4 linked regions of the Homo sapiens genome follow. The protein of the gene in region 3 purifies or fractionates together with the protein of the main gene of each other region. This does not show direct contact. Each region holds a gene or a part of one and is shown on either strand. Other genes may lie near its edges. The genes, in order: DHX57, REXO4, OASL and DDX50.

Evidence for each region.
Region 1: the proteins of OASL (region 3) and DHX57 purify together in Homo sapiens (affinity purification with mass spectrometry; 2 studies listed by BioGRID and IntAct, with this or other methods). This does not show direct contact.
Region 2: the proteins of OASL (region 3) and REXO4 purify together in Homo sapiens (co-immunoprecipitation; 2 studies listed by BioGRID and IntAct, with this or other methods). This does not show direct contact.
Region 4: the proteins of OASL (region 3) and DDX50 purify together in Homo sapiens (affinity purification with mass spectrometry; 2 studies listed by BioGRID and IntAct, with this or other methods). This does not show direct contact.

The regions. Positions count from the first base shown.
Region 1 is NC_000002.12:38,851,401-38,859,480, forward strand, and holds part of DHX57 (putative ATP-dependent RNA helicase DHX57), read right to left. Parts: intron 7,437-8,080; coding exon 7,261-7,436; intron 5,062-7,260; coding exon 4,940-5,061; intron 3,853-4,939; coding exon 3,657-3,852; intron 2,779-3,656; coding exon 2,654-2,778; intron 2,566-2,653; exon of another isoform or gene 2,481-2,565; intron 1-2,480. UniProt on the Homo sapiens protein: Probable ATP-binding RNA helicase.
Region 2 is NC_000009.12:133,413,931-133,421,861, reverse strand, and holds the start of REXO4 (RNA exonuclease 4), read left to right. Parts: upstream 1-3,851; 5' UTR 3,852-4,017; coding exon 4,018-4,242; exon of another isoform or gene 4,243-6,200; intron 6,201-6,850; coding exon 6,851-7,197; intron 7,198-7,217; exon of another isoform or gene 7,218-7,525; intron 7,526-7,931.
Region 3 is NC_000012.12:121,021,632-121,029,711, forward strand, and holds part of OASL (2'-5'-oligoadenylate synthase-like protein), read right to left. Parts: intron 6,187-8,080; coding exon 5,945-6,186; intron 2,507-5,944; coding exon 2,359-2,506; intron 1-2,358.
Region 4 is NC_000010.11:68,932,315-68,939,314, forward strand, and holds part of DDX50 (ATP-dependent RNA helicase DDX50), read left to right. Parts: intron 1-1,884; coding exon 1,885-2,046; intron 2,047-2,484; coding exon 2,485-2,604; intron 2,605-3,691; coding exon 3,692-3,765; intron 3,766-4,621; coding exon 4,622-4,781; intron 4,782-7,000. UniProt on the Homo sapiens protein: ATP-dependent RNA helicase that may play a role in various aspects of RNA metabolism including pre-mRNA splicing or ribosomal RNA production.

The sequences.
Region 1 (8,080 bases), on a different chromosome or scaffold from region 3:
CTTGCCAATATTTTTACTGATTTTTGTTCCTAGATTTTATTAGTTTTTGCTTTTTTCAGTCAGAGTTAGCAAATATTCCCCTACTTTTCCTTGTAATTTGTATACCCTTTCTTGTAAACTGGTATTTGTAAATATTTGAAGCACCCTTCTCCACTGTGTAATTAATCTTTATTCAGATGTGAACATCTTTTGAATTTTTAACGTTCATATTCTACAGATCCTTAGGTTTTATAAAAATCTTTCTCCTATTTTAGCCAGGAACCAAATCCAGTGCTATGTTCTCATTTCTTCAAGTTTGTGGAAGTACAAATGTTATAGAATCCAAAGCTACTCTTCATATTCAAAATTATACTGGATATAGGTTTCCCTAAAAGTTTAAACTTATCTTTATAAATCAATCATTTAAATACCATTAATCTGAGAGAATGTTTTATTTGGCTTCCTCTTCCAAGTTGTTCAATGATTTTGTTAAAAAAATTTCTTCTTTCAGATGTTCATTTCCAACAGTGGCAAAATGACATTATTTACCATTAATTTTTTTTCCCATTGTTTTCTGGAGTTTCTACAAAAAGATTATTTGCCCCTTAGAGATTTCCAATGTTTTCTGTATAGTAATTTAATATTTATTATTGTCTTGTTCTAGGAATTATTTCTTTTTCTTTTGGTTCATTCTTTTTATCTAAAAGTCTTTCTTTAGTTTCTAATTACTTCATATTTCTTATTTACTAATAATAGTAATGTATTATTTCTTCTAATAGTTCTTCTGGTTATATGCCTTCTCTGTTCAATTCCTTTTTTTTTTTTCTTGCTCTGTCGCCCAGCCTGGAGTACAGTGGCGCAATCTCGGCTCACGGCAACCTCCGCCTCCCAGGTTCAAGCGATTCTCCTGCCTCAGCCTCCCGAGTAGCTGGGACTACAGGCGCCTGCCACCAATCCTTTTTTTTTTTTTTTTTTAATGTTTTGCTTTTAGCTATTTTCTGCTTTCCTATCAGTCCACCAAGTTTACTTAGACTTTTTTTCTTCTTCTCAAGATATTTATTGTGGTACAATACTTTGTGGGAAAACTTCATAATTTTCACAGGACTTTCTCTTTTTTCCCACTAGTTTTCTTTTACTGCTCTAGGGCATGATCCACATGACAAACTATGATTAATGCCATCCATCTTCCTGGCCCTCCTCAGTACTTAAAATATTCAGACTTTTAATTTTTTTTTTTTTTTTTTTTAGAGATGGAGTCTCATGATATTTCCCAGGCTGAAGTGGCTCTTCACAGGTGCAATCATAGCACACCACAGCCTTGCACTCCTGAACTTAAGCAATCCTCCTGCCTCAGCCTCCTCAGTAGCTGGAACTACAAGCATGCACCACTGTGTCTGGCAAGAATTTTTATTTTATGCCTCACCCTTTAATGACTTCTAATTTCATAAGATAAAATCCACATGCTTTATTATTCGTGGTGCTTAAGGCCCTGGAAGGTCTGGCTCCTGCTGCTTCTTCCCTGTGCTACTTTCCCCTTTGCTGCTACACAGCAGGTGCACTGGGCTTCCTTGTTTCTGGACTCACAAAGCCCCTTCCCACTGCAAAATCTTCAAACATACTTTCCTTACCCCCGTTTGTCACCTGGGATTCCTTCTCATATTTCAGTTTTCTTTTCTTTTCTTTTCTTTTCTTTTGAGACAGGGTCTTGCTTTCTTGACCAGGGTGGAGTGCAGTGGTGCTATCACAGCTCACTGCAGCCTCAACCTCCTGGGGGCTCAATTGATTCTCCTGCCTCAGCCTCCTGAGTAGCTGGGACCTTAGGTGTGAGGCATCACGCCTGGCTAATTTTTTTTTTTTTTTTTCTGTATCCCCAGTAGAATGACTACTGGCTATTTTTTGTTTTGTTTTGTTTTTTTTACTTTTCGTGGAAACATGGTCTCACTATGTTGCCCAGGTGGGGCTCCAACTCCTGAGCTCAAGCGATCCTCCCACCTTGGCCTCCCAAAGTGCAGGGATTATGGGTGTGAGCCATTGCGCCCGGCCATACTTCAGTTTTGAATTTAAATTGTCATCTTACAGAGATATGATCTTTGAGCATCTATGGGTCTCTCCCTCCAAACACAGCATGCCGTTTATTCCTTCATAGTGCTTATTCCAATTTACAATCATTTGCTTGTTTACTTGTTCATTATTTGTTTTTTCTACTGGACTGTAAGAGATGAGGGGGAGCCATACATGCTTGTTCATCACTGTATCCCCAGCAACTAATATATCACTTGGCATTTAATGCAGGCTCAATAAATACATGAATCAATGTCAGGACTGAATGGCCAAATAAACAAGGAAGAAGATACATTCAGCCACAGCATGCATGACATCTGTTATTTCTACTAAGTACGGTATTCAACTTAGCATAATGCCCAGGATGGTGTGAAGTATACCTTCTAACCTAACAGGATGACTCCATCTAATAAGTGATGAGCATGTGCTGTCCTTTTTAGTGTTACAGACCCTGGAGATCAAGAAAGCAGTTGCTCTTCTCTAACATAGGCCTTCCTTGTGGCAAATTACCATTACTAGCTGCATGAAACTGAATTGGAACTAGAAAACAATTTTTTCTGCCATGCCTTCAATTCAGGTGAGTGTGTGTTCCCTGGGAAAGTCTTTGTTTTACCTTTCTTCTGTCCTCTCATGAACTTCATCAACAATGATATGGGAAACTCCTTGTAGAGCTGTATCTCCTTCTAGCCTTCTCAGCAGCACTCCCGTGGTGCAGTATAACAGTCTGGTGGCTGAGGACTTACACATGAAAGGGCAATATAAATCATTAATAAAATTTTCAAAAAAAGGAAACATTACTGGAAAGCCATTTTGAATGGATAGTGATAAAAAATATTGGAAACACCAGCAGTTCCATTTAATAGGAAACCATACTAAACATAGTTTCTTGCCAGGGACAGTAATAAAAGCCTTTCTACTTCATATCACAATGTTAAGATTTTCATAAAAAGCATTAAAAAACAGTGAATAATGAAAACAGTTCTCAATCTGTCTGCTCCTTATTTGGTTAAATGGATTATGTCCCAAGTTCAAGAGCAAAACAGTCTTTACTAGATGACTTCTGCCAATAAAAAATAAAAAGCTTTACAGAGGAAATTTAGTACAACCAAATAAGAGTTTTTTTTTTTTTTTTTTTTTTGAGACAGAATTTTGCTCTTTTTGCCCAGGCTGGAGTGCAATGGCGCAATCTCGGCTCATTGCAACTTCCGTCTCCCAGGTTCAAGGGATTCTCCTGCCTCAGACTCCCGAGTAGCTGGGATTACAGGCGTGTGCCACCACACTTGGCTAATTTTTGTATTTTTAGTAGAGATGGGGTTTCTCCATGTTGGTCAGGCTGGTCTCGAACTCCCGACCTCAGGTGATCCACCTGCCTTGGCCTCTCAAAGTGCTGGGATTACAGGTGTGAGCCACCGCGCCTGGCCATAAGAGTTCTTATACCAAAATATTTCTAAATATTTCTAAATATTTAAATAAATGATTACCAAAGGTAATCATTAATTTAAAAATAACCTGAAAGTATATATCCCAAATTGCCCATGAATCTCCTAACCCCCAAAACTTTTTATACCTAAAAACCATAAATTTCTGTTACCAGGAAATAAGCAGAGCATACAAACCTTGACACTTTCTAACCGAATCTGGTATCCCACGGTCAGACCCACCCTCTCTGCTCTTTCTTTAGCAACGCGTTCAGCAACAGAGATTGCAGAGATTCGTCGGGGTTGGGTACAGATGATGTTGGCTACCTTCTCAGGTGGTCCATTCAGAGAATCATCCAGAATAAACTGCGGAATTTGTGTGGTTTTCCCACATCTGTACATTAAAACAAATAAGTCCTAAAATGAAGTTTTCAAGGGCTAGTTAACTAAAGAAGCAATCATATGGAATGAGAAAAGTGATAAAGCTAATTAGAATAAAAGTTGTTCAGTTTCAGGTATTTTCTAAAACAACCTCCTGACTTATTACCAAGAGGTGGGAAATTCTAGGAATTTGCACTCCAATCAAAAGGACAATCAAATAATAGTTTAGTAACATTTGTAAAATTGGGACTATTGAACAGACATTAAATTAAGGTCTGTAAATGCTTCTAGGAACGTAAACTCTACACATGAACCCCAAAGAAAAGGAGTATTAGCTTATGATTATCAAAATATTTTATAGGTATTAATTTAGCTATGATTAGGCTGAGGTTAAAAAGATAAACTAGAAGGTACGAATTATTACCATATCACTGAGTCTGGACACAAATATAATTATTAAATTGTATACTCTTGAATAAATAAATGAAGTCTGCAATTTGTCCCTGCTAAATAGGAGAATGTAAAGCAGGAAAAATAACGCACCATAATTAAGTTGTTTTTAAAAGAAAAATAAAGGCTGGGTGTGGTGACTCACACCTGTAATCCCAGCACTTTGGGAGACCGAGGCAGGCGGATCACTTGAGGCCAGGAGTTCGAGACCAGCCTGGCCAACATGGTAAAACACCCCTCTCTACTAAAAACACACAAAAATTAGTTGGGTATGGTGGTGCACCACAGTGGTGCGCCTGTCATCTCAGCTACTCGGATGGCTGAGGCATGAGAATCACTTGAACCCAGGAGGCAAAGGTTGCAGTGAGCCGAGATCATGCCACTGCACTCCAGCCTGCGTGACAGGAAATCAGAATAAATTCAGAAGATAAAAAGCTCTCAAGCTAAATGTTCTAGAACTATCCTTTAAATTTAAACATGAGCCTTGTTAAAAGTCTTCAGCTGGATTTTTTTGCCTTATGTCTCAAGGCAGATGTATATAATATCTATAAATCCAGCTACAGTTTTTAACAAGTTCAACTGGTTATGGTAACCAGGGTGCATATAATATTTATAGATGAAAGCTACAGATGAATAAACTGCATTCTTACCCAGTCATACCACTTATGACAACCACCTGGTGCTTACGCAATAAGTTAAGAATGGTTTCTCTTTCTTCCCAAGCAGGGAGTGATTGCCTCTCTTGCAGAATGGACTGGAACTGTCTGGAAGCCTAATAAAATCAAAGATAAGATATCAGTTGGGTTACTTTTTCTTTTTTTTTTTTTTTTTTTGAGACAGGGTCTCACTCTGTTGCCAGGCTGGAGTGCAGTGGTGCGATCACGGCTCACTCCAATCTGCACTTCCCAGGCTCTAGCGATCCTCCCGCCTCAAGCTCCCAAGTAGCTGGGACTACAGGTGTGTGCCACTATACCCGGCTTTTTGTATTTTTTTGTAGAGACAGGACTTCACCATGTTGCCCAGGCTGGCCTCAAACTCCTGTGCTCAAGAATCCACCTGCCTTGGTCTCCCAAAGTGCTGGGATTACAGCTTTTTTTTTTTTTTAATTATAGAGACAGAGTCTTGTTATGTTGCCCTGGATGGTCTTGCACTCCTGGCCTTGAGTGATCCTTTGTTGGATTTGTTGGGATTGGATGTAGAAGACTTTATTCAGAATGCTGCTCAGAGAATCAGCCAGAATGAGTTGTGGAATCTGTACATTAGTTTTCCAACATCTGAATAAACCGAAAGATTTTCTGGGTGAAATAAAGCCCTCTTGCTTAGCACATATCCAGTTCTTCCCAACAAGAGTCTCTATACCAGTACTGTCCAATAGAACTTTCCGTGTTGATGGAAATGTTCTATACCTGTGCTGTCCAATACAGCAACACCTGGCTACATGTGGCTATTGAGCACCTGAAATGTGAAGAATAGTGTTACTGAGGAACTGAATTTTTAATTTTAATTAATTAATATAAACAGCCAAACATGGGTAGGGGCTACCATATCAGACAGCGTAGCTCTAAGCAATATCAGATTTTTACCTAAATCAATAATAGAAAAGCACTCACTAAAGGGTTATTTTTGGGCAGTCACTACAACTATATAAATCAATTTCATATTTAATGGCCAATGCTATAAAAATTGCCTTGTTTGTTAAAACTCTGGCTATACTTTTGAATACTGTAATAAATTTACAGGAACTTGCTATTTCCTACATATAATTTTATCATAAACTTATCACACTGATCAAATTGAATATCTAATTTTTTGTTTCTATCATCTTACCTACAGTGCAATTTATATACATTGTGATGTTCTTTGGGTATTGTACTACATATGTGATGGTGTTACATGGTGTCAAAAATCAGACTCACAGAACTTTAGAACTGGAGGGCCTAGAGAGCATTTAATCCAATTCCCATATTGGTTAAGCAACTTGCCTCTGTCCTATCTCTAACTTTGCCCTCAGGATTCACTTATGAATTCTTTTAAAATAATCTTCATGTGAATGGGGTAAAAACAAAATGGACTTTAGAAACAGAATTGGCTAAACCACTTACTAGCTATGCGATCTTGGGCACATTATTTATCCTTTGAGTCTTTGAAACAGGGTAAAAGTCCTTCCTTATCCTTCTCCTTTTATATATTAATTTTTTCTAAGGTAAATCGCAGTATTTGTTTTGTTTTGTTTTTAGAGACAGGGACTCATTATGTTTTCCAGGCTGGCATTGTCTCAAGTGATCCTCCTGCCTCAGCCTTCCAAGTAGCTGAGACTACAGGCATGTGTTACCACGCCCGCCTGGCTCTAAACCACAGTATTTGTTTTTATTTTGTTTTGTTTTGTTTTTGAGACAGAGTCTTGCTCTGTTGCCCAGGCTGGAGTACAGTGGTGCAATCATGGCTCACTGGAACCTGCACCACCAAAGTTCAAGCAATTCTTGTGCCTCAGCCTCCCAAGTGGCTGGGATTACAGGCACCTGCCACCACGCCCGGCTAATTTTTGTATTTTTAGTAGAGACAGGGTTTTGCCATGTTGGCTAGGGTGGTCTTGAACTCCTGACCTCAGGTGATCTGCCTACCTTGGCATCCCAAAGTGCTGGGATTACAGGTGTGAGCCACCGTGCCCGGCCAGTAAACCACAGTATTGATATTCCTTTTACATACCAGATTGTCTGTCACAGTACCAAAGGCACATGACTCTGAGACTATTTGGCATATATGTGTGTGTTTGCTATGTACCAGCTATAGGATTTTCCAAAACCATCTAGCATATGCACTTAAGTTTGCTGTGGCCTGTAGAAACTTTGACCACTCAGGGAGAAAAAGAACCAGAAGAATTTTAAGGAGGGTAGCCAAAGCTCCCTAATTCCTAATCCCATCATCCAGATATTAGGGAGGCAACGTTACTCATTCTCTCAGCATACCCTACCTGTTTCATTCGGAACTGCTTGCAGATTTTACCATTTTCAGCATGTACTGACTTTGCCTGCCAGTCATATCTTTTGGAAATCTTTTTCTTAAGGTTCACATAGCTTTCATTCTCTACTATAACAGGTGCAGGACCGTCATCCTCATCTGACTCCTCAGATTCTGATGCTTTTTCAACTTGAAGGAAATAAAAGAAAACATTTCAGTATGGAGCCCTTTCTTTAACAAAAGGGGAAAGTCGCTGTCTAACAGAGTATCAACAACAAAAAGTCAAAATGGAGAAAAAGTGAAAACTTGAATAAAGTAAGTTCATTCATTTCTAGTATTTCTATTTCTAAAGAACTTAAAATGCATCCTCAAATAAACTTTTATCAAGCACAAACAAAGTAATTAGCATTAAAAGAATTAGCAGTGAATGTTTCAACTGTACGCAAGTGTCCCCAAATCCCACAACGTAAAACAACACAAATATCTATCAAATGATGAATCAATGAACAAAATGTGGTATGTCCACATAATAGAATATTATTCACTAATAAAAAGGAATGATGTAGTGATATGTGCTAGAACACGGATGAACCTTGAACACATTAGCTAAGTGAAAGAAGCCCATCTCAAAAAGCTGCATATTGTGTAATTCCATTTCTATGAAATGTCCAGAGTAGGCAAATCCATAGAGATAGACAGCAGATTTGTGGTTATGAGGGGCTGGGGGAAGGGGAAAATGAGGAGAGACTGCTATGGGTACATGGGTACAGGGTTTCTTTTGGGGTTGATGATAACGTCCAGGGATTAAAAGGTGGTTATTGTTGCATAATTCT
Region 2 (7,931 bases), on a different chromosome or scaffold from region 3:
CTCCAAACCACTCTTTTACACCCACAGAGCCGCACAAGCTGATGACCAGCAGGGGGATTCACCTTGTCTTTCCACCCCTCAAAGTGCAGCCTCTCTCCTCCTCTGCGATCAGGGAGGACACACCTACACTTCCTGCCAGGCCCTGGCTCTGGATCCCTTCCCAGCTCTCTCCTCCTGCATCGTTAGTTTCTGCCCCTCTGCTAGAGCCATTCATTCATTCCTTCAGCCAACAAATGTTTCACTGAGCCCCTGAAACAGGCCAGGCTCTGTGCTAGACACCAGGAAAGCAGCCCCAAGCCAGGCAGACAGCAGCCTCGGCCTCTCACAGCTTAAATTCTAGGGAAGAGAGCCAGACAGCAAAGTTGCTAGACAGACACATGTTGTATATGTAGTATGTTCAAAGGTGGTAAGTGTTATGGAGAAAAATACAGCAGAATAAAGGAATGGGGGACTGGAGGGAAGGGTGTGCTTTCATGCAGGAAGGTAAGGAGGCTGTTGGAGAAGGGGGCATGCTTAGATATCGAGATCCTGGTACCTGGCTCACTCCATCAGCATGAATGACTCTCCTGTCTCTTTTTGGTTTTTGTTTGTTTTTTGAGACAGAGTCTTGCTGTGTCACCCAGGCTGGAGTGCAGTGGCACGATCTCGGCTCACTGCAACCTCCGCCACCCAGGTTCAAGTGATTCTCCTGCCTCAGCCTCCCTTGTGGCTGGGATTACAGGCACCCGCCATCACGCCTGGCTAGTTTTTGTATTTTTAGTAGAGGTGGGGTTTCGCCATGTTGGCCAAGCTGGTCTCAAACTCCTGACCTCAGGTGAGCTGACTGCCTCGGCCTCCCAAAGTGCTGGGATTACAGGCATGAGCCACCAAGCCCAGACACTCTGGTGTCTCTTGATTACAATCAACAACCTTCCCTTGACCCACACTGTCCTCCTGCCATAGCCCTGTTTCTGGCTGTCTTTAAGAACTTAGAAACATTATTTTCAGTGGCTATCTCCACTTCCTTGCCTTCAATTCCCACATACCATTGAAATTGATCTTTAAAAGGTCACCAATAACTTTGTGAACCCTGAAAGAGCCAATCCTTCTTGATGGATCCCAAGTTACTAACTGGGCCTAAATTCAAAGTAGGACCTAGCAGCCATTTGCTGACTAGGGTCACACACACATTCTGCGTTCCTGGAAAGCCCCCACTCTCACTTAACTCTGGGATGGTTTCACAGCTATCTGTTCCTGTTTATGCCGCCAGAATCAACCCATCGACTGTGACCTGCATCGACCAATCTGAACTCAGCAAGTATTAACCAATCAGAACTAAGCAAGTGTGCCTTCCTCATTTGCATAAGTGGACCAAAGTGGGAACCTGGGCAGGAAGTTCTCTACAAAAGACGACCTCTTTCTTTGTTCTCTTTGTTCCCTGGAATGCACCTTTGTACAGAAGGCTGCATTGCCCTGGTTTACAAACTGCTGGAACAAAGTTTTTTTCCTTTTTTAAAAAGAAAACCTGGGCCAGGTGTGGTGGCTCACGCCTTTAATCCCAGCACTTTGGGAGGCCGAGGCAGGTGGATCACGAGGCACGCGGATCATGAGGTCAGGAGTTCGAGATCAGCCTGGCCAGCATAGTGAAACCCCGTCTCTTTTCAAAAATACAAAAATTAGGCTAGGTGCGGTGGCTCACGCCTGTAATCCCAACACTTTGGGAGGCTGAGGCGAGAGGATCACCTGATGTCTGGAGATCCATACCAGCCTGGCCAACATGGAGAAACCCCATCTCTACTAAAAGTACAAAATTAGCCGGGCGTGGTGGCACATGCCTGTAATCCCAGCTACTCGGGAGGCTGAGGCAGAAGAATCACTTGAACCCGGGAGGTGGAGGTTGCGGTGAGCCGAGATTGCGCCATTGCACTCCAGCCTGGGCGACAAGAGCATAACTTCGTCTCAAAAAAAAAAAAAAAATTAGCTGGGCATGGTGGCGTGCACCTGTAGTTCCAGCTACCCAGGAGGCTGAGGCAGGAGAATCGCTTGAACCCGGGAGGTGGAGATTGTGGTGAGCCGATATCACGCCACTGCACTCCAGCCTGGGCAGCAGAGCAAGACTCCGTCTCAAAACAAACAAAAAAAAAGAAAACCCTTTTCGGTGGACTTGCTGACAATCTCAGTGCCATATCTGGTTCCCATCTCTCTGTCCTCGTCCTTCTCAGCCTCTCAGCAGCATCTGATGTGGTTTATTCTCCCCCTGGATTCTCTGATGCCACTCACATCCGCTTCTCCTCCCACTGCACTGACTGCTCCCCCTCAGCCTCCTCTGCTGCTTCGCCCCTGGAGAGCCCCCAGCACCTGCTATCTGGTCTTAACCCTTCACTCCCTATATTGGTACTCTCTCTTTGGATGAACTAACCCAGGTTCATGTTTCAACACTAATTATGTGCTGACGATTTCCAAATTACATCTCCAGCACTGACCCTTCCCTAAGCTTAGGAATCTTATATCCTGCTGCTGATTAGACGTCTCTCCTTGGTGACTGACGGCCCGTTCAAACTCAGCAAGTGTGAAAAGGAGCTCATGGCTCCACCCCCATACTTCACCCTGCTCCCCGCAGACATTTATTGAGATGATAAATGGCCACACCCAATTGCTCAGACCAAAATCCTAGGAGCCTCACTTCCCTGTTACTCCATCAACCTCTGCCTGTTACACACGCACATCAAATCTACCCACTCCCGGCCGGGCACGGTGGCTCACACCTGTAATCCCAGCGCTTTGGGAGGCCGAGGCGGATGGATCACTGGAGGTCAGGAGTTCAAGACAGCCTGGCCAACGTGGCGAAACCCCAGGTCTACTAAAAATACAAAAATTGGCAGAGAGTGGTGGCGTGCACCTATAGTCCCAGCTACTCAGGAGGCTGAGGCAGGAGAATCGCTTGAACCCAGGCGGCAGAAGTAAGGGAGGAGACCACCCCTCATATTGTCTTATGCCCAATTTCTGCTTCCAAATAAAGAAGTAAAAACTAAAAGGCAGAAATAAAATCCACAGGCAGACAGCCCGGCGCCGCGCCCTGGGCCTGGTTAAAGATCAATCCTTGACCTAACCGGTTATGTTATCTATAGATTTCAGACATTGTATGGAAAAGCATTGTGAAAATCCCTGTCCTGTTCTGTTGCGTTCTGATTACCGGTGCATGCAGCCCCCAGTCACGTACCCCCTGCTTGCTCAATCGATCACGACCCTCTCACACAGACCCCCTTAGGGTTGTAAGCCCTTAAAAGGGACAGGAATTGCTCACTCAGAGAGCTCGGTTTTTGGAGACGTGAGTCTGCCGATGCTCCCCACTAAATAAAGCCCTTTCCTTCTACAATTCGGTGTCTGAGGGGTTCTTGTCTGCGGCTCGTCCTGCTACAGAGTGAACTGGCAGGAACTCCTCCCGGTGCCTGGGCCTCAGTTTCCCCACTGTACGTGGAAGATGAGCCGCTGTGAGGCTGAGCAAGGAGCAGCCCAAGGCGGGAAAGGCTCGAGAGTCCAGGACGCAGGCGAGCGACCTAGCCCGGCTCTCACTAGCCCCACCGCCCAGTGCCCCCAGCTCAGCTGCCCTACCAGGTGCTACACACACAGCGGCCCCCCAGTTCCCTTCCGGCGTTCGCATCTCTCATCCCCATCCCGGATCTTGGGGAGGTCCTCGGCTTGCCCCAGTCAAACTCGAGGTCGATGACCCCGGATGCCGCTGGCTAAGGCGGCGGCCCAAGTCCCGTGCGGGTGAACCGCCCAGGCTGCGCGGAACCAGAGGCAGGGATCCGGTTTCCAGCCGGTTGTGGAGAGACGAGCGCTTCCGGGGACTGGAGCGTGCGTGCTGAGGTATGCGCAACGCGTGCGGGGTCTCTTCCGGAGTCTTTTCCTGGACGGGGTCCCTGCGGTGGGTGTGTTTCGGCCTGGCCTGGGCAGGCGCTTGTGCTGCCAGGGCGCCGGGCCCGGGGAGGCCGGGGTCTCGGGTGGCCGCCGGCCCAGGCGCTGGACGGCAGCAGGATGGGGAAGGCGAAGGTCCCCGCCTCCAAGCGCGCCCCGAGCAGCCCCGTGGCTAAGCCGGGTCCTGTCAAGACGCTCACTCGGAAGAAAAACAAGAAGAAAAAAAGGTTTTGGAAAAGCAAGGCGCGGGAAGTAAGCAAGAAGCCAGCAAGCGGCCCCGGTGCTGTGGTGCGACCTCCAAAGGCACCAGAAGACTTTTCTCAAAACTGGAAGGCGCTGCAAGAGGTGAGGCTTGAGGGGGCCCGGGCGGAGCGCTGCGCAGCTCATTCCCGCAGAACGCGACGGAGGGAAAGACTTGGGTAGCCCCAAAAGACCTGTAAAGGCAGATTTGAATCGAAATCTTGTAAACAGCTTTTCACAAGAAAGGTGGCCTGTTGAGGGAGGTCTCGAACTTGTTTGCTTGAAAGAAATTGATGAAAGAATTATTTCAAGTACAAAAAAGCAAAGATAAACCCTTGTACCTTTTGCATAATGAACTAACTAGAATGGATTTTACAAAGAGAAATTTAGCTTAAAATCCCGAAACCAGGCCGGGCGCGGGGCCTCACGCCTGTGATCCCAGCACTTTGGGAGGCCGAGGCGGGCAGATCCCCTGAGGTCAAGAGTTCAAGACCAGCCCGGCCAACATGGTGAAACCCCGTGTCTACTAAAAAAGTACAAAAAATATTAGCCGGGCGTGATGGCGCGCGCCGGTAGTCGCAGCTACTCGGGGAGCCTGAGGCAGAAGAATCGCTTGAACCCGGGAGGCAGAGGCAGTAGTAAGCCGAAATCGCGCCACTGCACTCCAGCCTGGGCGACAGAGCGAGACTCCATCTCAAACAACAACAACGAAAGAACACACTGGTCTGTGTAGCAAGACAGGGAGAAAGAAGATTCCTGTGTAGAAGTGAAAAGCAGATAGCAGACATGTGATGGGGTTCTAGCGACACTTACGGTCTTGAAGTAAATACTAATTGAGCTCCTAAAAATGTGCACTCTGCCATGTGCTCTATGCCATGCGTGTTGCAATCCCCACAATAAGACTGTGAGGTGGACACTTCCATCATCGCTATTGTACAGATGAGGAAATAGGCTGGAAAAGTTTAAATAGATCATCTAAGATTGCGGCTGGGAACCAGGTGGCTGACTCTGGAGTCCATGCTTTTAAGGCTGTGTTGTACCTGCTGTCTCCCTAGTGACCTGCACTTCTGTAGAGGTTGCCTGCTCTCTCCTAGACACTCTTCCACGTGCGTCACTCATACATTCTTACCACATCCCTTGGAGCTCCCTTGGAGCTACCTCCTGTTAGGATCATAGCTCACTGCTGCCTGGGCTCCAGTGATTCTCCTGCCTCAGCCTCCCGAGTAGCCCACACGTGTAATCCCAGCACTTTGGGAGGCCCAGGCAGGAGGATCACTTGAGCTCAGGAGTTCAAGTCCAGCCTGGGCAACATGGTGAGATTCCATCTCTAAATAAAAGTAAAAAGTAGTTTTTTTAAAAAAGAAATGTGATCCCCAGTGGTGGAGATGGGGCCCATAGGAGGTATTGGGTCATGGGGGTAGATCCCTCATGAATGACTTGGTGCCCTCCCCTCAGTAACGAGTAAGTTCTCACTCTGCTGGTTCATTTGAGAGCTGGTTGTTTAAAAAGAGCCTAGCACCTTTTTTGCTTGCTCTCTCACCACGCAACACACCTGCTCCCCCTTCACCTTACACCATGATGGGAAGCTTCCTTCGGCCTCACCAGAAGCAGATGCTGGCACCATGCTTCTTGTACAACCTGCAAAACCATGAGCTACATAAACGTTTTTTCTTTATAAATTACCAAACACAGGTATTCCTTTATAGCAGTGCACAATGAACTAATACAGATGGGGTTTCACTTTGTTGCCCAGGCTGGTCTTCAACTCCTGACCTCAAGCAATCCTCCCACCTCAGCCTCCCCGAGCGCTTCTTGAACCTCCTAATACTCTGCACAGTATCTCAGTGCAGACATTCCTGTCTTAACACACAGGACCAGTCAAATTCCCGTGGGCAGCCCCAGGGTTCTGTGGGATTTCTTGAACACCAACTCTTCTTCCTTCTCCCAAGAAAGAAAAGCAAAATAAGTGAATGGAAGGGATGTGTGCTATAGGGAAACTTTGGAGTGTTTTCTAATTCATCCAAGAAAGTCAGCCCTTCAGTTCTTTACCTATCACAGAACAGGTAAGTAGCACCCGCCTCATCATCGCACTGTGGTGGCGCCCACTCCCACTGGGGATTTGAACACAGGGAGGAAGCTGGGCTCTAAGACTACAGGAGCCTCTGCTTGGGTGACAGCCAAGGTGTGTGGCTGCTAGCAGTTCTTCAGCCACTCCAGTTTGACAGAAGCTTTTCTTTTCATTTATGACACCCCCCACCTTCCTGAGATCTTCACAGCAGTAGCAAACCAGGGAATCTTGTAAAAAAAAAAAAAGCGATTTCTGTGTAGCAGGATGTTGGCCCAAGCTGTGAGGGAAGTTAACTCCAAAATTCTTTCTAGATAAGCTGAAAAGGGAAGTGGTCTGTGGTGTCCAGCCACTCAACAGGTACCCAAGGTGTAGAATGAGTTTGACATTTTGTATGCATGAAGGAGCAGGTGCAAAATGCATTATAATAAGATAAGCAAAGAAACAGCATTTCACCACAAGTGACCCATGAGAATGAAAAAGAGCTTTTTCCAAACCGTTTGAAAATGAATTTCAGTGATGCGGATGGGAATTGTATAGATGTGTTTGGTGTATATGTGTGTATATACATACACACGTAAGTTTTTTCAATCTGCTGTGTGTAATTTCCAAATTCAAATGCAGCATGTATTTTATTTTGGGTCCCAGTGGCTGCTGAAACAAAAATCTCAGGCCCCAGAAAAGCCTCTTGTCATCTCTCAGATGGGTTCCAAAAAGAAGCCCAAAATTATCCAGCAAAACAAAAAAGAGACCTCGCCTCAAGTGAAGGGAGAGGAGATGCCGGCAGGAAAAGACCAGGAGGCCAGCAGGGGCTCTGTTCCTTCAGGTTCCAAGATGGACAGGAGGGCGCCAGTACCTCGCACCAAGGCCAGTGGAACAGAGCACAATAAGAAAGGAACCAAGGAAAGGACAAATGGTGATATTGTTCCAGAACGAGGGGACATCGAGCATAAGAAGCGGAAAGCTAAGGAGGCAGCCCCAGCCCCACCCACCGAGTAAGTATGGGCCACCTCACCACTGAGAACCGAGGCACAGCGACTTCACCAAGGCCTGTCTCCTTATGGAGGCTGGTGGCCTCACCGCAGTCTCTCCATCACTTTACCCTGATGTCGTCTGTTCCTTTGTTTACTCGCTGTTACTTGTTTTCCCCTAGAGTGTGCGCATGATAAGGCAGGGCCTGCTTCTTCCGAGCGTTGAGCAGAGCTCAGCATTTAGTGGGTGCCAGTACACGTGTGTGGAAGGAAAGCGTGCTGAAGCCAGAAAGACCCAAGTATGAGGCCTGTCCCTGCTTCTCGCCAGTTGGGTGGTTTGGGGCAAGTTTCTGACGTCCTCTGTGCCTTGTGGTAGTCATGGTGGCATCATAAGGAGATTGTGAGGTTGGCACTCTTGGCTCAGTGCCTGGTGATTACTTCAACCCTGTGATGGAGCCAGGTGTGGTGGCTGTTGCCTGTGATCCCAGCTCCTTGGGAGGCCAAGGTGGGAGGATCACTTGATCCCAGGAGGTTGAGGCTGCAGTGAGCTGTGATTGCACTACTGCCTCCAGCCTGGGTGACGGAGCAAGACTCTCAAAAAAACAAGTGAAAAGAATAAACCCTGTGCTGGCCACCCACGTGGGGTGGACCGGGAGTCAGTGGCCTTCTCTGAATGGTTCAGCTGGAGGTGACGTGTTCATAAGTTACAGCTGGCTTCATGTTGCCTGGGTGTTCAGGACACAGTCGCTGATGGCTGA
Region 3 (8,080 bases):
AAAACCTATCTCTACCAAAAAATGCAAAAATTAGCCGGGTGTGGTGGCGTATGCCTGTAGTCCCAGCTACTCGGAAGGCTGAAGTGGGAGAATCTCTTGAACACAGGAGGTGGAGGTTGCAGTGAGCTGAGATCGCACCACTGCACTCCAGCCTGGGCAACAAAGGGAGACTCTGTCTCAAAAGGAAAACAAAAAAAGAAAAAGAAAAAGAAATATAAGCCTGGCATTGCCAAGTTTTCTGACTAGCCAAGATAAAAAATATTTGCACAATGTTGTGTGTGTTTGTTTTGTTTTTTGAGACAGGGCCTTGCCCTGTCACCTCAGGCTGCAGTGCAGTGGTGCAATCTTAACTCACTGCGCCTTGACCTCCCAAGCTGAAGCGATCCTCCCGCCTCAGTTTCCTGAGTAGCTGGGACCACAGGTGCGTGCCACCACATCTGGCTAAGTTTTGTTCTTTTTTTTTTTTTTTTTTTTCAGATGGAATCTCACTCTGTTGCCAGGCTAGAGTGCAGTGGCACGATCTTGGCTCACTGCAACCTCCGCCTCCCAGGTTCAAGCGATTCTCCTGCCTCAGCCTCCCTAGTAGCTGGGACTACAGGCACATGCCACCACACCCAGCTAATTTTTGTATTTTTAGTAGAGATGAGGTTTTACCATGTTGGCCAGGATGGTTTCGATCTCTTGACCTCGTGATCTGCCCACCTCGGCCTCCCAAAGTGCTGGGATTACAGATGTGAGCCACCGCACCTGGCCAAGTTTTGTATTTTTAGTAGAGACGGGGTTTCACCATGTTGCCTAGGCTGGTCTTGAACTGTTGGGCTCAAGGGATCCACCCGCCTCAGCCCCTCAAAGTGCTGTGATTACAGGCGTGCGCCACTGCCCCCAGCCTACAATGGCTTTTATATTCAGGAAAAATCCAGAGGCGTATATTTTCCAGCCCATGGGTGGGCCTCCTCATTTGGCCAGCGGGTCCCCCCGTTTATACTCTATGTACCTTACTGGAGCCTCTGATTCTGCTTCTGCCTTCTGCTCCAAGCAGTTCAGTCTCCTGTCCTGTACACATCTTGCTCATCCCAGCCTCCCATCCTTTACCCCTCATCATCCTTTGTCCTCTGTTCTGAGTGTCTATATCTCCCCCCGGCCTTTAGGGCTCATTTCAACTCCTAACTTTTTAAAGGAATCTTCTCTGGTGACTTCAGTTAACATTTATTCTGCTTCCAGACCCCCAGAGCCCCTGGTTCTGCTGCCTCTTAGCAGAGTGCCCTTAGTTAATTAACCTCTCTGAGCCTCAGTTTTCTCTTCTGTAAAATGGCAATAATAGTAATGATGATAATAATAATAAAGATAGTGATAACACTCGACCTTCTTACTTTACAGAATTGCTTATGAGGATCAACTGAGACAGACCTTGGACAAGAGCTTTGCACACTAGAAAGTGTGATGTTAATAAAATAGATTTTTGTGATCTCTGCCTATACTATAGGTTTGGCATCATATAATAATATGACTTAGTATTTTTTGTTTGTTTGTTTGTTTTCAGAGTATCTTGTCTTCTCTGGTAATTCTAGCAGTTTTGTGTAAGTTTGTTTCATGGATTTGCTTCCTGACAACATAGGGTGAGTTCTCTGAGAGTGAGGGTGGTGTCTTTTTTTTTTCTTTTTTTCTTTTTTTTTTGAGGCAGAGTTTCCCTCTTGCTGTCCAGGCTGGAGTGCAATGGCACGATCTCAGCTCACTGCAGCCCCCAGCTCCCGGGTTCAAGCGATTCACCTGCCTCTGCCTCCGGAGTAGCAGGGATTATAGGCACCTGCCACCACGCCCGCCTAATTTTGTATTTTTTTAGTAGAGATGGGTTTTTTCCATGTTGGCCGGGCTGGTCTTGAACTCCTGACCTCAAGTGATCCACCTGTCTTGGCCTCCCAAAGTGCTGGGATTACAGGCGTGAACCACCGCACCTGGCCGAGCGTCGTGGTCATGTCTTATTTCTGTGCCTGTGTTGTCCCCCAGCCCACATCCCCTACCCCATCCCTGAGAACAGCACTGGCACAGAATGGCTGATTGAGCTGACTTGGCTGGACCCAACTCACGCAAAGAATGATCAGGAACACAGAACTGATTCTCCAGTAAATTATGGGAAAAAGAAAGGAAAGGAGAACAAGAATTTGAAGGTAAGAAACCCAAGGCTCTGAGAGCCAAAGAATTTGTCCAAGTTCACGGAGCCCATGGGTGGTGCAGCTGGCCCTTAAACGGTGACTCTAAAGTTCTGTTCTCCATCAACACAGAACTGAATGAGTAAATACTGAGTAGTTTATCTGTCGTTCTGACCTTCAAGCCCTTGACAGCCCAGAGAGGAGCCATTACCTTCACGTTCCAGCTGGAGATGGGGTTCTCCCTGTTGTCATAGCAACAGTCCTGTTTCAGGCACTGGGAGGCCCTCTGAGCAACGATGTCCCATCTGTACCCTTCTGCCACGTTGAGGGTGGGGTCGGCCGGATCCAGGATGATGGGCCTGTAACACAGGAAAAGGGTGCCCAGGCTCATAATGGTTTGAAGGCCTTCAAGCCAGAAAAAAACCTTCTCGGCAATTATTTCGTCCAGCCACTGAGAATTGTGATATCCACATCCCGGGGATGTTCAAGAGGGCCCCAAAACACCGCAGGAGAGTAACAGGATGGAGACAATGCTATTTCCAAGAATTCCTATCTGGGCCAGGCACAGTGGCTCACGCCTGTAATCCCAGCACTTTGGGAGGCTGAGGCGGGAGGATCACTTGAGGTCAGGAGTTCAAGACCAGCCTGGCCAACGTGGTGAAACCCTGTCTCTACTAAAAATACAAAAAATTAGCCAGGTGTGGTGGTACGCACCTGTCATCCCAGTTACTCAGAAGGCTGAGGCAGGAGCATTGCTTGAACCCAGGAGGTGGAGGTTGCAGTGAGCCAAGATCATGCCACCACCCTCCAGCCTGGGTGACCGAGTGAGACTGTCTCAAAAAAAAAAAAATTCTTCTTCTTTGGGATAGTGCCTTAAGTGTTTGCAAGGAATTTAGGGGGAGAATGAGGCCCCAAGAGGCATGCTGGAGTAATAACAGATGCCCTTTCAGGCAGGGGGGGCCCTGTACCTTCGGAGCAGGTTTTGCAAGTTTAAGTTTAAGGTTAGAGCTGCTGAATTACTTTGGATAGTAGAAACACCACTGCCACCAACTACTGACATTTATTGAAGCACAAGGCCAAATCCTATGCAGATTAACCTATTTTAATCTTACAGCAATTCTATAAGGTAGGGACTGTTATTTTTATTGTTTATTGTTGTGGTTGTCCCCTTTTTACAGACCTCCCTAAGTTCCTTTTTTTTTTTTTTTTTTTTTTTTTGAGACAGAGTCTCGCTCTGTCGCCCAGGCTGAAGGGCAGTGGTGCAATCTCGGCTCACTGCAACTTCCACCTCCCGGGTTCAGCCAATTCTCTGCCTCGGCCTCCTGAGTAGCTGGGATTACAGGTACCCGCCACCACGCCCAGCTAATTTTTGTATTTTTAGTAGAGATGGGGTTTCACCATCTTGGCCAGGCTGGTCTTGAACTCCTGACCTCGTGATCCACCTGCCTTGGCCTCCCAAAGTGCTGGGATTACAGGCATGAGCCACCGGTGCCCGGCCTAGATTGCCCTAAGTTCTTACAGCCAGTAGATGGGGGCTCTTACCCATCTACCTCCTCAACAGAGCAGAGGTTGGGCTGCCCCCAAAAGTCTCTCCTTTCTATAAATATTGAATAAATATTTTAAAGAATATTGGCTTGAAGGGGATCTTGGGCTTGCTTATTAACTTGGGGTGACTGCAAGTCCATGATTAACACCAGCTCTTTGAGTGGGGCGCAGTGGCTCACGCCTATAATCCCAGCATTTTGTGGGGCCGAGGTGGGCAGATCACTTGAGGTCAGGAGTTCAAGACCAGGCTGGCCAACATGGTGAAACCGTGTCTCTACTAAAAATACAAAAATTAGGGCATGGCGGCAGGCGCCTGTAGTCCCAGTTACTTGGGTGGCTGAGGTGGGAGGATAGCTTGAACCCAGGAGGTGGTGGTTGCAGTGAGCCAAGATCGTGCCACTGAACTCCAGCCTAGGTGACAGAGCAAGACTCCATTAAAAAAAAAAAAACAAAACCCAAAAACAAACAAAAAAAACCCAGCCCTTTGTACTCCAGGGCTTGGGAGGGAGCTGCGACTTCATCTGTGTAATCGAATGTGACACAGGCTACTGGAATGAACTGGACTTTGGGCTCCAGGCTGGCTCCTCCCAACCCTGACTGCTCCCTAAAACAGTCCTGCCTGAAAGTGCCAGGCTGTCCTATGGGGTGGGGTCACTGATCTAAAGTGGCTCATTCTGTTGGCTGGCAGGTGACCCAACACATGGGGTCTGTGTCCCGTGACCAGGAATCAGACTGGTTCTCTCTGGGGTTTGGACATGGGGATGATGGAGATCCCTTATACCTGGGAGGCAGAGGGGAGCCGGACAGGTGTGGAGAGAGAAGCAGAGGCTGAGGGGAAAAGTGCTGTAGTTCATGAGAGAGAGTGACAGAGAGAGAGAGGGAGTCTCAGGTCCTGATGCTTTCTCGATTTTTCTGGCCATGGTTATAATAAATCCTCTTTTCATGAGCAGACCTGGCTTTTCTTCCTTACAAAAGAGACCCAATACTACATAACAGAACACTAAATACTGTGATGTTGCTTACACAGGCCCAGAGCTTCTAACACAGAGAGTTGTCTGGGTTGGGCTTCCCCTGAAGCAGATCCCCAGATAAGGATTTGGCTTATTTGGAAAGTGATCCCAGGAAGCACAAATAAGGGAGTGAGACAGTGAGACAGATAAGGGAAGGCAGACAACAAAGAGTGGGTATTGAAGTAATTACTACTGTGGTCCACTGGAGGCGATCTTTAGGAAAGAGTATGGAATGGGGCCCAGTGCGGTGGCTCACGCCTGTAAGCCCAGTACTTTGGGAGGCCAAGGCAGGCGCATCACCTGAGGTCAGGAGTTTGAGACCAGCCTGGCCAACATGGCAAAGCACTGTCTCTACAAAAATACAAAAATCAGCTGGGTGTGGGTTGTAGGCGCCTGTAATCTCAGCTACTCAGAAGCCTGAGGGAGGGGAATCACTCGAACCCAGGAGGCAGAGGTTGCAATGAGTGGAGATTGCGCCACTGCACTCCACCCTGGGTGACAGAGCAAAACTCTGTCTTAAAAAAAAAAAAAAAAAGTTACGCAATGAGACCCAGATTCCTTCCATCTTTTGGGTGAGGGAGCTGTGGTATTTATCCACCAACTCCCACCAGATCTGGTGGAGGGCTCTTCTCAGAGTGGGTCTGCTGGCAAAGGGATGCAGGTGCTGACAGCTGGAAGTGGAACCAACCTTCCCTAGAACGGTAAAGGCCGAGAGGATATGAATGGGACGCTGACAGCACATGCTCCAATATAAGCATTTACTCAGCATCTGCCAGATGCTAGATATTGTGGATCCTTAACACAGATTTTCTCCAACCCTTACATCAATCCTATGTCGTAGGTTCCAGTTTACTCCTGTCTTATGGATAAGGGATTGAGGCTCATAGCAGTAGGAAAATGGCTGAGCTGGGATTTAAACTTGAGTCTCCAAGATTCTTTCCATTTTCCCATGCTAGCTCCTACAAAGCACTGAAATGGTCTTCAGAGAGCAAGAAGGCCAAGCTAAGGTGGAGGGTGGCTTAGGAAACAAGGAACAGGCTTCTACCCGCCCCATGGCCCCCCAGTGACTTTGATAAGCCACCAACTTGAGATGCCAGCTGTGTTGGTGTGGGAGGTCGATGCTCAACTATGGTGGCAGCCTTACTGCTTAATACAGCCAATCCATAAAACTCTATGCCACGTTACACTAGCCCGTCTCTCTTTTTTTCTGTAAGATTTGGTGGGCAAACAGTGGTCCAGTACCTCTCTTTTTTGAGCTGTTTTCTGACACAATCCTCAATGATTGCATTGTGGAGTGTGTAGTACTTGGTCCAGTAGATACAGATGACTTCATACTCCAGGAGCAGGTCCATCACAGTGGTGAAGCCTTCGTCCAACATGAAATTCTCGTCTTCTTCAGTACCCATTTCCCAGGCATAGATGGTTAGAAGTTCAAGAGCATAGAGAGGGGGCAGATTGGCTCTGGGGGACCTGGCTTTCACATACTGTTGAAAGAGATGGGAAGACAGAGAGAGAGAGACCCTAAGATTCTGTGTAAGGATGGCGTTGGACCAGAAGCTGAGAAATCCAAGTTCTAGTCCTGGCTCTGCTGCCTACTGGCTGTGTGACCTTGGCCATGTCACATTCCATCTCTAGACATAGGTTTCACCATTTTAGAATTAAAGGGCTGAGTTAGTCCATTGGGCTTCAATATATGCTCAACAGATGTAACTCCTGGAATGAACTTATGAACAGGTATGAGCAGATTGCGCTCGGTCACAAACATTCTAGCCTAAGCAGTCCCATTTAAATCTATTTTAATGTATTGAGCTGCTGAGAAATGTTTCTTAAAAGAAAGGAAAGGTTTCCTTAGATAGAGGGAAAAAATGGTAATAGGTGAGATTCTGTAGTGAAGATTGGGGTTGCCTCTCTAGCAGACATTCTTTCCTTCCCCATTGCATAGTAGCCATGATGTTTGGAAGGGGTTGACCCCCACCCGCAGCTCCAGGATGGGCCCTGACTGGCACAGTCCTATCAGCATAAACCTTTCCCCCTTGCAAGTGATTGCTTCAAGAGAAGGCATGCGATCTAAGTTGGCTCAACTAGAGTAAAGCCTAGTTCTTTTGTTCAGTGGTTGAAAGAAGAGAAGTCCTCCCATGTGTGAATATGAGGGCAGGAATAGTTGTGGCCATTTTGCCACCAAGAGGGAAACAAGCCAAAGGACCAAGCTGACATATAGAGGAATGAGAAGCTGAGAGAATTCCAGAGAAACAGAGCCAGTGCCCTCACCAGTGCCTGAAACCCGCCCCCCCCGCCCGCCCCCCCTACTGTTTAGGGGTTTTCCTACATAAGCTGATAATTCCCTTTATTGTTTAAGCCAGTTTGAGTTGGTTTTTGTGTTTTTCTCTTACTTGCAAAAGGAAGCATCTTAACTGACAGTGGTCACTTCCTGTGTTAAGAATCTCACTGAGGCCGGGCGCAGTGCCTCCCGCCCGTAATCCCAGCACCTTGGGAGGCCGAGGCGGGTGGATCACTTGAGGCCAGGAGTTCGAGACCAGCTTGGCCAACATGGTGAAACCCCGTCTCTACTAAAAATACAAAAATTAGCCAGGTGTGGTGGCAGGTGCCTGTAATCCCAGCTACTTGGGAGGCTGAGGCGGGAGAATCGCTTGAACCCAGGAGGAGGAGGTTGCAGTGAACCAAGATCATGCCACTGCACTCCAGCCTGGGCAAGAGTGAGAACTTGTCTCAGAAAAAAAAAAAAAAAAAAAAAAAGAATTTCACTGATACATTGATATTTAGCCAGAAAGTGAAAAATTTTGGTCAAATATTCAGTAGTTTGATTTGTGGAAGTAAAACTGACATATTTTCCTATGGCCATCATATATGAATATTAGCTCCCATCCCAAAGTCAGAGGAGAAAAAAAAAAGCTATAACACTTTGGCCTTGAAACAAACACAGAATCATCTTGTATAATTCTCATCTCCCAAATAAATGAAACCTTGGGCCTTTCCTATAGGTCACTGACTTACTAACAAAAAAACTTTATCCTTGACCTTAGAAATTCAATTTTGAATTAAAATGTATTTATAAGGCTGGGCTCAGTGGCTCACGCCTGTAATCCCAGCACTTTGGGAGGCCAAGGCAGGTGGATCACAAGGTCAGGAGATCGAGACCATCCTGGCTAACACGGTGAAACCCCGTCTCTACTAAAAATATAAAAAATTAGCTGTGCATGGTGGCGGGCACCTGTAGTCCCAGCTACTCGGGAGGTTGAGGCAGGAGAATGGCATGAACCCGGGAGGCGGAGCTTGCAGTGAGCTGAGATTGCGCCACTGCATTCCAGCCTGGGCGACAGAGCAAGACTCTGTCTCAAAAAAAAAAAAATTATAAGTTAA
Region 4 (7,000 bases), on a different chromosome or scaffold from region 3:
AGTGGAGCGATTACGGCTCACTGCAACTTTTACCTCCTGGGTTCAAATGATTCTCCTGCCTTAACCTCTCGAGTAGCTGGGATTACAGGCATGCACCACCATACCTGGCTAATCTTTGTATTTTTAGTAGAGATGAGGTTTCACCATGTTGGCCAGGCTGGTCTTGAACTCCTGACTTCAAGTGATCCACCCACGTCAGCCTCCCAAAGTGCTGGGATTACAGGCATGAGCCACTGAGCCTGGCCTGATCATTGTTATGAACTTTTTGACTTTAATATAGTGGCCAGGAATACTAGGAAGTGTATTTATAATACCAGGAAATTTGCAGCAGAGATGAAGATCTACCTAATATAAATAGGTTCAGTGTCACTAATGCAGCAGAGATGAAGATCTACCTAATATAAATAGGTTCAGTGTCACTAAAAATTACAGACATGTAAATTAAAACAACATTGGGAAATTATTTTTGCCTATTAAATTCACAAAGATTACAATGATTTATAATATACACAAGCTGGGTAGGGTATGTTGAAATAAATACTCATAGAGTATTGAAGAATAAAAGGTACACAACTTTTTTTATAATACAGTTTTTTAAATAATACAGTTTCTGTTAAAATGCTACATGTTCATAATTTTTGACCCAGAAATTCAACTTCTAGATATGTATCCTACTGAAATATACAGATACTGAGGCATCCAGAGATACAAGTACAAAGTTACAAAGTTGTTCATTGCAACATTGTTTGTTTGTTTGTTTTTTTTTTTTTTGAGATGAAGCTTCACTCTTGTCCCCCAGGCTGGAGTGCAATGGCACGATCTCAGCTCACTGCAACCTCCACCTCCCGGGTTCAAGCTATTCTCCTGTCTCAGCCTCCCAAGTAGCTGGAATTACAGGTGCCTGTCACTGCGCCTAGCTAATTTTTTGTATTTTTAGTAGAGACAGAGTTTCACCATGTTGGCCAGGCTGGTCTCAAACTCCTGACCTCGGGTGATCTGCCTGTCTCGGCCTCCCAGAGTGCTGGGATTACAGGTGTGAGCCACCATGCCCGGCCCATTGCAGCATTGTTTCTAAAGGTGAAAATGTGAATACAGCCCAAAAGTTCATCAGTAGGATATTGCTAAAATAGATGCTGGTGCATCCATATGAATAAATTATATACAGTTTAAAAAAATTAAGTAGCATTTTATCTATAGATGTGGATAGCTAAGATACACTAAATTTATCAAGTAGGTTACAAAACCCTACCTATGTAATATCCACGTTATAAATAAATACATAAAGTCATAGTATATGCTAGTGTAATGTGAGTATGTGTGTATTAAAAAAAAAAAGTGGCCGGGTGTGGTGGCTCACGCCTGTAATCCCAGCACTTTGGGAGGCAGAGGCTGGCGGATCACCTGAGGTCAGCGAGTTCAAGACCAGCCTGATCAACATGGTGAAACCCTGTTTCTACTAAAAATACAAAAATTAGCTGGGCATAGTGGCAGGCACCTGTAATCCCAGCTACTCGGGAGGCTGAGGTAGGAGAATCGCTTGAACCTGGGAGGTAGAGGTTGCAGTGAGCCAAGATCGCTCCATTGCACTCCAGCCTGGGCAATAAGAGCAAAACTCTGTCTAAAAAAAAAAAAAAATCTGACAGAATATTTACCAAACTCTTAGCAGTGAATTATTTCTAAGTCACTAGTATTAGGGAAGCTTTTACATTTTATGTTAAATATTTTCTGTCATGTTTGACTTTTTTTTTTTACAGTAAGCATGCATTGTTAAAATCATCAAAGTAAGATTTAAAAACATGCAAAAGGAGCACAGACTAGATGTTGTTGTGCTATCAGTTGCAAGTATGAGCTGTACACTTAATTTTCTCCCCCTTTCTCAAATAGAATGCCCAGTGTTTACATGGGGACATTGCACAGTCACAAAGAGAAATTACACTAAAAGGCTTCAGAGAAGGTAGTTTTAAAGTTTTGGTGGCAACCAATGTGGCTGCCCGTGGTTTGGACATTCCTGAAGTTGACCTGGTGATTCAAAGTTCTCCTCCTCAGGTAGGAAATGGGATTTGATTTGGGAAAAATAAGAGCAATTTTATAAATTCCCATTTAATTTACAACATATTGCTTGGGATGTGAAAAATATGTCATCTCTTCTTGCTCTTAGCCATTTTTTGTTAGTGTGCTATTAAATTTATCAGATTCTGATACTTTTGCAGATGATTAACTCTATTGTTTGTATTTGAAGCATGGAGCAACAAAATCAGGCAGAGAATTACAAAAAGTTGCCATAAAGAAACCTGGGATGAGGTGGATTAAAAGGTTTTAAATCATATTGCCTTTACCCCAAAATCCACACATATAAATTGTTTGGAATGTTGAAAAGGGCAACAGGATTGAAATAAATATATTATTATTAACATTATTATTTGGATTCCGGAATGACTGCAACTTGCTAGATTTTTAAAAAATATTACCTTTTATAATCTTTAGGATGTTGAGTCCTATATCCATCGCTCTGGACGCACAGGTAGAGCTGGACGGACAGGGATTTGTATATGTTTTTATCAACCAAGAGAAAGAGGTCAACTAAGATATGTGGAACAAAAAGCAGTAAGTAGAGTTAAATTATTTCAGGCTTATTGTCTAAATGGTGCCTTAAAAGAGAGCTCTTCTTATATTTATTCTTACAAGTAGGTCTTCATAACTTTTCTCAGTTTAAGCTGCATTTGGCTGTGAAGCCTGTGGAGATCTAAATTTATATTAGCTTCAAGACTTTAATACAGCTTTTATTGTGAAGACAGTGGAGCTGACTTTCTCATCTTTTCCTTGAATTTCTCTCTTCATACTAAAATCAGAAGTGCATTGTGATTTCAGTACTTCTTAGTGTAAATGGGTGACTAAAAGATTGTCTTGGTATAATAGTTAAGATTCTTTTAAGTATGGTACAATAGACAGTTTCTAAAGAAACTGTACATTTTCTGTGGTCTGGATTTTTTGTGGTATTTCACATTTTTTCCTATTTTTATATGTGTTTTTATATGCAATTTCATATACTTTGTAAAATGAGATAGTGTAATAAGGAAAAAAGCTGATAGATTTAAACATCTGTTTTGTTTTGTTTTTTTTTCAAATCAGGCTTGTTTTACAAGTGAAATTCCATGATTGTAACTAAGGGGCAATTCAAAAAATTATTTTTCTCTTTCTGAAATTTGTAATTGATGATTTATGAGAAAAAAAAGATCTTGGCTGGGTGCAGTCACTCACGCCTGTAATCCCAGCACTTTGGGAGGCGGAGATGGGCAGATCACTTGAGGTCAGGAGTTTGAGACCAGCCTGCCCAACATGGTGAAACCCCATCTCTACTAAAAATACCAAAATTAGCTGGGCATGGTGGTAGACACCTGTAATCCCAGCTACTATGGAGGCTGAGGCAGGAGAATTGCTTGAGCCCAGGAGGTGGAGGTTGCAGTGAGCCAAGATCACGCCACTGCACTCCAGCCTGGGCAACAGAGCAAGACTCTGTGTCAAAACAAAAACAAAAACAAAAACAAAAAAGATAAAACTGATCTTTTAATCTGCTAGGGCTATGAAATCTTTAAATGCAAGAAATAGAAATTCAACGAACTATTAAAATATTAATTTAGGAATTAATTGTAAAGACTTCCATTTTTCTTTAATGTAACTCTTTCATTTTCAGGGAATTACTTTTAAACGTGTAGGTGTTCCTTCTACAATGGATTTAGTTAAATCTAAAAGCATGGATGCCATCAGGTATGCTTTCTGAACTTGCTGAATAATTGTTTCTTTTGTATTAGGCTATTCATCTGTAAGCTCTCCCAGTTCAAATAGCAGAAAATTTTACCACCAGTTTTACCAGCAGACATTTAGTTATATTAAAATATAAAACAGTGGCTCATGCCTGTAATTCCAGCACTTTGGGAGGCTGAGGCGGGCAGCTCATGAGGTCAGGAGATTGAGACCATCCTGGCTAACACGGTGAAACCCTATCTCTACTAAAAAAATACAAAAAATTAGCCAGGCGTGGTGGTGGGCGCCTGTAGTCCCAGCTACTTGGGAGGCTGGAGCAGGAGAATGGTGTGAACCTGGGGGGCGGAGCTTGCAGGGAATCGAGAGTGCACCACTGCATTCCAGCCTGGGCGACAGAGCAAGACTCTGTCTCAAAAAAAAAAAAAAAAAAAAAAAAAAAATATATATATATATATATATATATATATATATATAAAATGTGGCTGGGCACTGTGGTGCACGCCTGTAATTCCAGCACTTCGGGAGGCTGAGGTGGGCAGATTGCTTGAGCTTAGGAGTTTGAGACTAGCTTGGCCAACATGGCGAAACCTTGTCTCTACAAAAAATACAAAGATTAGCCAGGAGTGGTGGCGCGTGCACCTGTAGTCCCAGCTACTTGGAAGGCTGAGGTGGGAGGATTGCTTGAGCCCGGGAGGTTGAGGCTGCAGTGAGCCAAGATCGTGCCAGTGCGCTCCAGACTGGGTGACAGAGCAAGGCTCTATCTCAAAAAAAAAAAATTACTCCTTCTTTTTCCCATTTTTCTTCTTATCTTTTATTTTTTCCCTATGTCTTGACCAAGAATACTATTTTTAAACCATAGGTCTCTGGCTTCCGTTTCTTACGCTGCTGTTGATTTTTTCCGACCATCAGCTCAGAGACTGATAGAAGAGAAAGGTGCAGTGGATGCATTGGCTGCAGCTTTAGCCCACATTTCTGGTGCATCAAGCTTTGAACCACGATCTTTGATCACCTCTGATAAGGTAGAAATCTGTGAGAAAATTGTACATGAGTGGGAAAAGGTTAAAATTGAACATAGGAAATATTGTAGTGAATTATTGTGCTTTTTGTGCAGAAAAAAACTGTTTTGCTCTATGAGAAACTGGTCTCCTTATTTTCCTCTACTCCCTAATAAATCCTTTTTTGACAATCACCTCTTCCAAATTTTTCAAACCCACAGAAAAACTGAAAGAATAATGCAGTAACCACATACGATCCACCTAGATTCAACTGTTAAAAGTCTGTATCATGTGCTTTATATCCTTTTTTAGCTCTAATTTGTAATTAAAAAAAAAATGACATGTAATAATTGTACATATTTATAGGGTATGTGGTGATGTTTCAGTACATCCGTACATACCATGTATAGGTATCAGATCAGGATCATTAGCGTATCCATCGTCTAAACATTTATCATTTCTTTGTTTTAGGAACCATTCAATATCTTCCTTCTTGCTTTATAACTTTATAAGTTTTTTTTTTTTTTTTTTTGAGATTGAGTCTTGTTCTGTTACCCAGGCTGGAGTGCAATTACGTGATCTTGGTTCACTGCAACCTCTCCCTCCCGGGTTCAAGCAATTCTCCTGTCTCACCCTCCTGAGTAGCTGGGACTACAGGCGCACGCCACCATGCCTGGCTAATTTTTGTATTTTTAGTAGAGACAGGGTTTCACCATATTGGTCAGGCTGGTCTCAAACTCCTGACCTCAGGTGATCTGCCCTCCTCAGCCTCCCAAAGTGCTGGGATTACAGGCGTGAGCCACCTCACCCGGCCTGTATTTTTTTTCTAAATCATTTGAAAGTAAGTCGAAACACCGTGATATCATCCCTAAATATTTCAACATGCATCCTCTGAGAATAAGGATATTCTGCTACATAACCACAATATAATAAGCTCATCTGTGAAAATTAATGATAGTTCTGTATCATCATCTAATATTTAGTTTATATCCATTTTTTTCTCATTATCCTGAAAATGTCTGTCTGTCTGGGTATTTGGAGAGAAATATAGGAAATGCTCACTTTGCACAGACCTTTGTTAACTGAAACTTGTATCCCAGAACCTACATTTCATTTTGTAAGTTTCCATGGAATCCTGCAAAGTAAGAAATAGACTCTGCACAATTAACACAGTAGCATGCAAAGTAAGTAAGAAATGCCTGTGTGTGTGTGGAGGGGTTGTGTAAGTGTAACACCATCTGAACTGGCCTGCTGCCAGATTCGTATCACATGTCAAAACATACCACACCAGAACCATTGGTGCAGGTAGCTCAGAGATTTTTTACTTATTCAAGTATAAGTGAGGGGAGTTTCTTGGTGAAGAGAATTTTAAATAAGAGTTCTGTTATGTCTGAGTGGAGAGAGTGAGTGAGCGAACCTGGTCCTGGAGACATCTATAAGACTAGAGCCTGCTGGTGGGATTTTCAAATAATAACAAAACAGACTAATTTGGGCAGCACATCCCTGTGATGGGGAGGAGGAAACAAAAAGGGCAGGGCAGGTTCACTTGGATGTGACTTATTTGGTGTAGCACAAATGAATGCTGCTGGGGTATCTGATGGTTTCTACCTGGTAGGTGTTAATAGTTTAGCTAAATGTCATTTTGCTTTGAGTGACTTATTGGGCTCCATTCCGTTTATCCATATGTGTACATATACCTATTTGTATGTATGTTTTTAAAAATTCAGGACCTAGTTAAGTTTTACATGTTACATTTGGTATTATGTCTCTTTAGTCTCTTTTAGTCTGGAACTGTTTTCTCATCTTTTTAATTTTTTTCTGATATTGATTTGGTGAAGAGTCTTGGTCGGTTGTTTGGTAGAATATCTCACTGTCTGGATTTGTCCGAATCTCTTCAAGCATCATTTAACTTTTGCCTTTATCCTCTTTTAAACTGAAAGTAATATCAAAGCTTGACTTTTATATTTAGGTGAAATGTTTTTGGCAAGGGTACTTTATAGTTAATATGTACCTCATATTGCATCACATCAAGAGGCATAAAATGTTAGGTTGTTCCAGTACTAGTAATGCTTAATTTGCATTTGTTTAAGATGGAAACTGCCATATTGTAAAGGTGTATTTTACTCTCTGTAATTAGTAACTTGTGGGGTGATACTTTAGCATTGAGCAGATATCCTATCCCTAGTAACCCACCAAATGCTTAAGACAGTATTTAAAACATATTTCTTTAGAAAATATTGAGA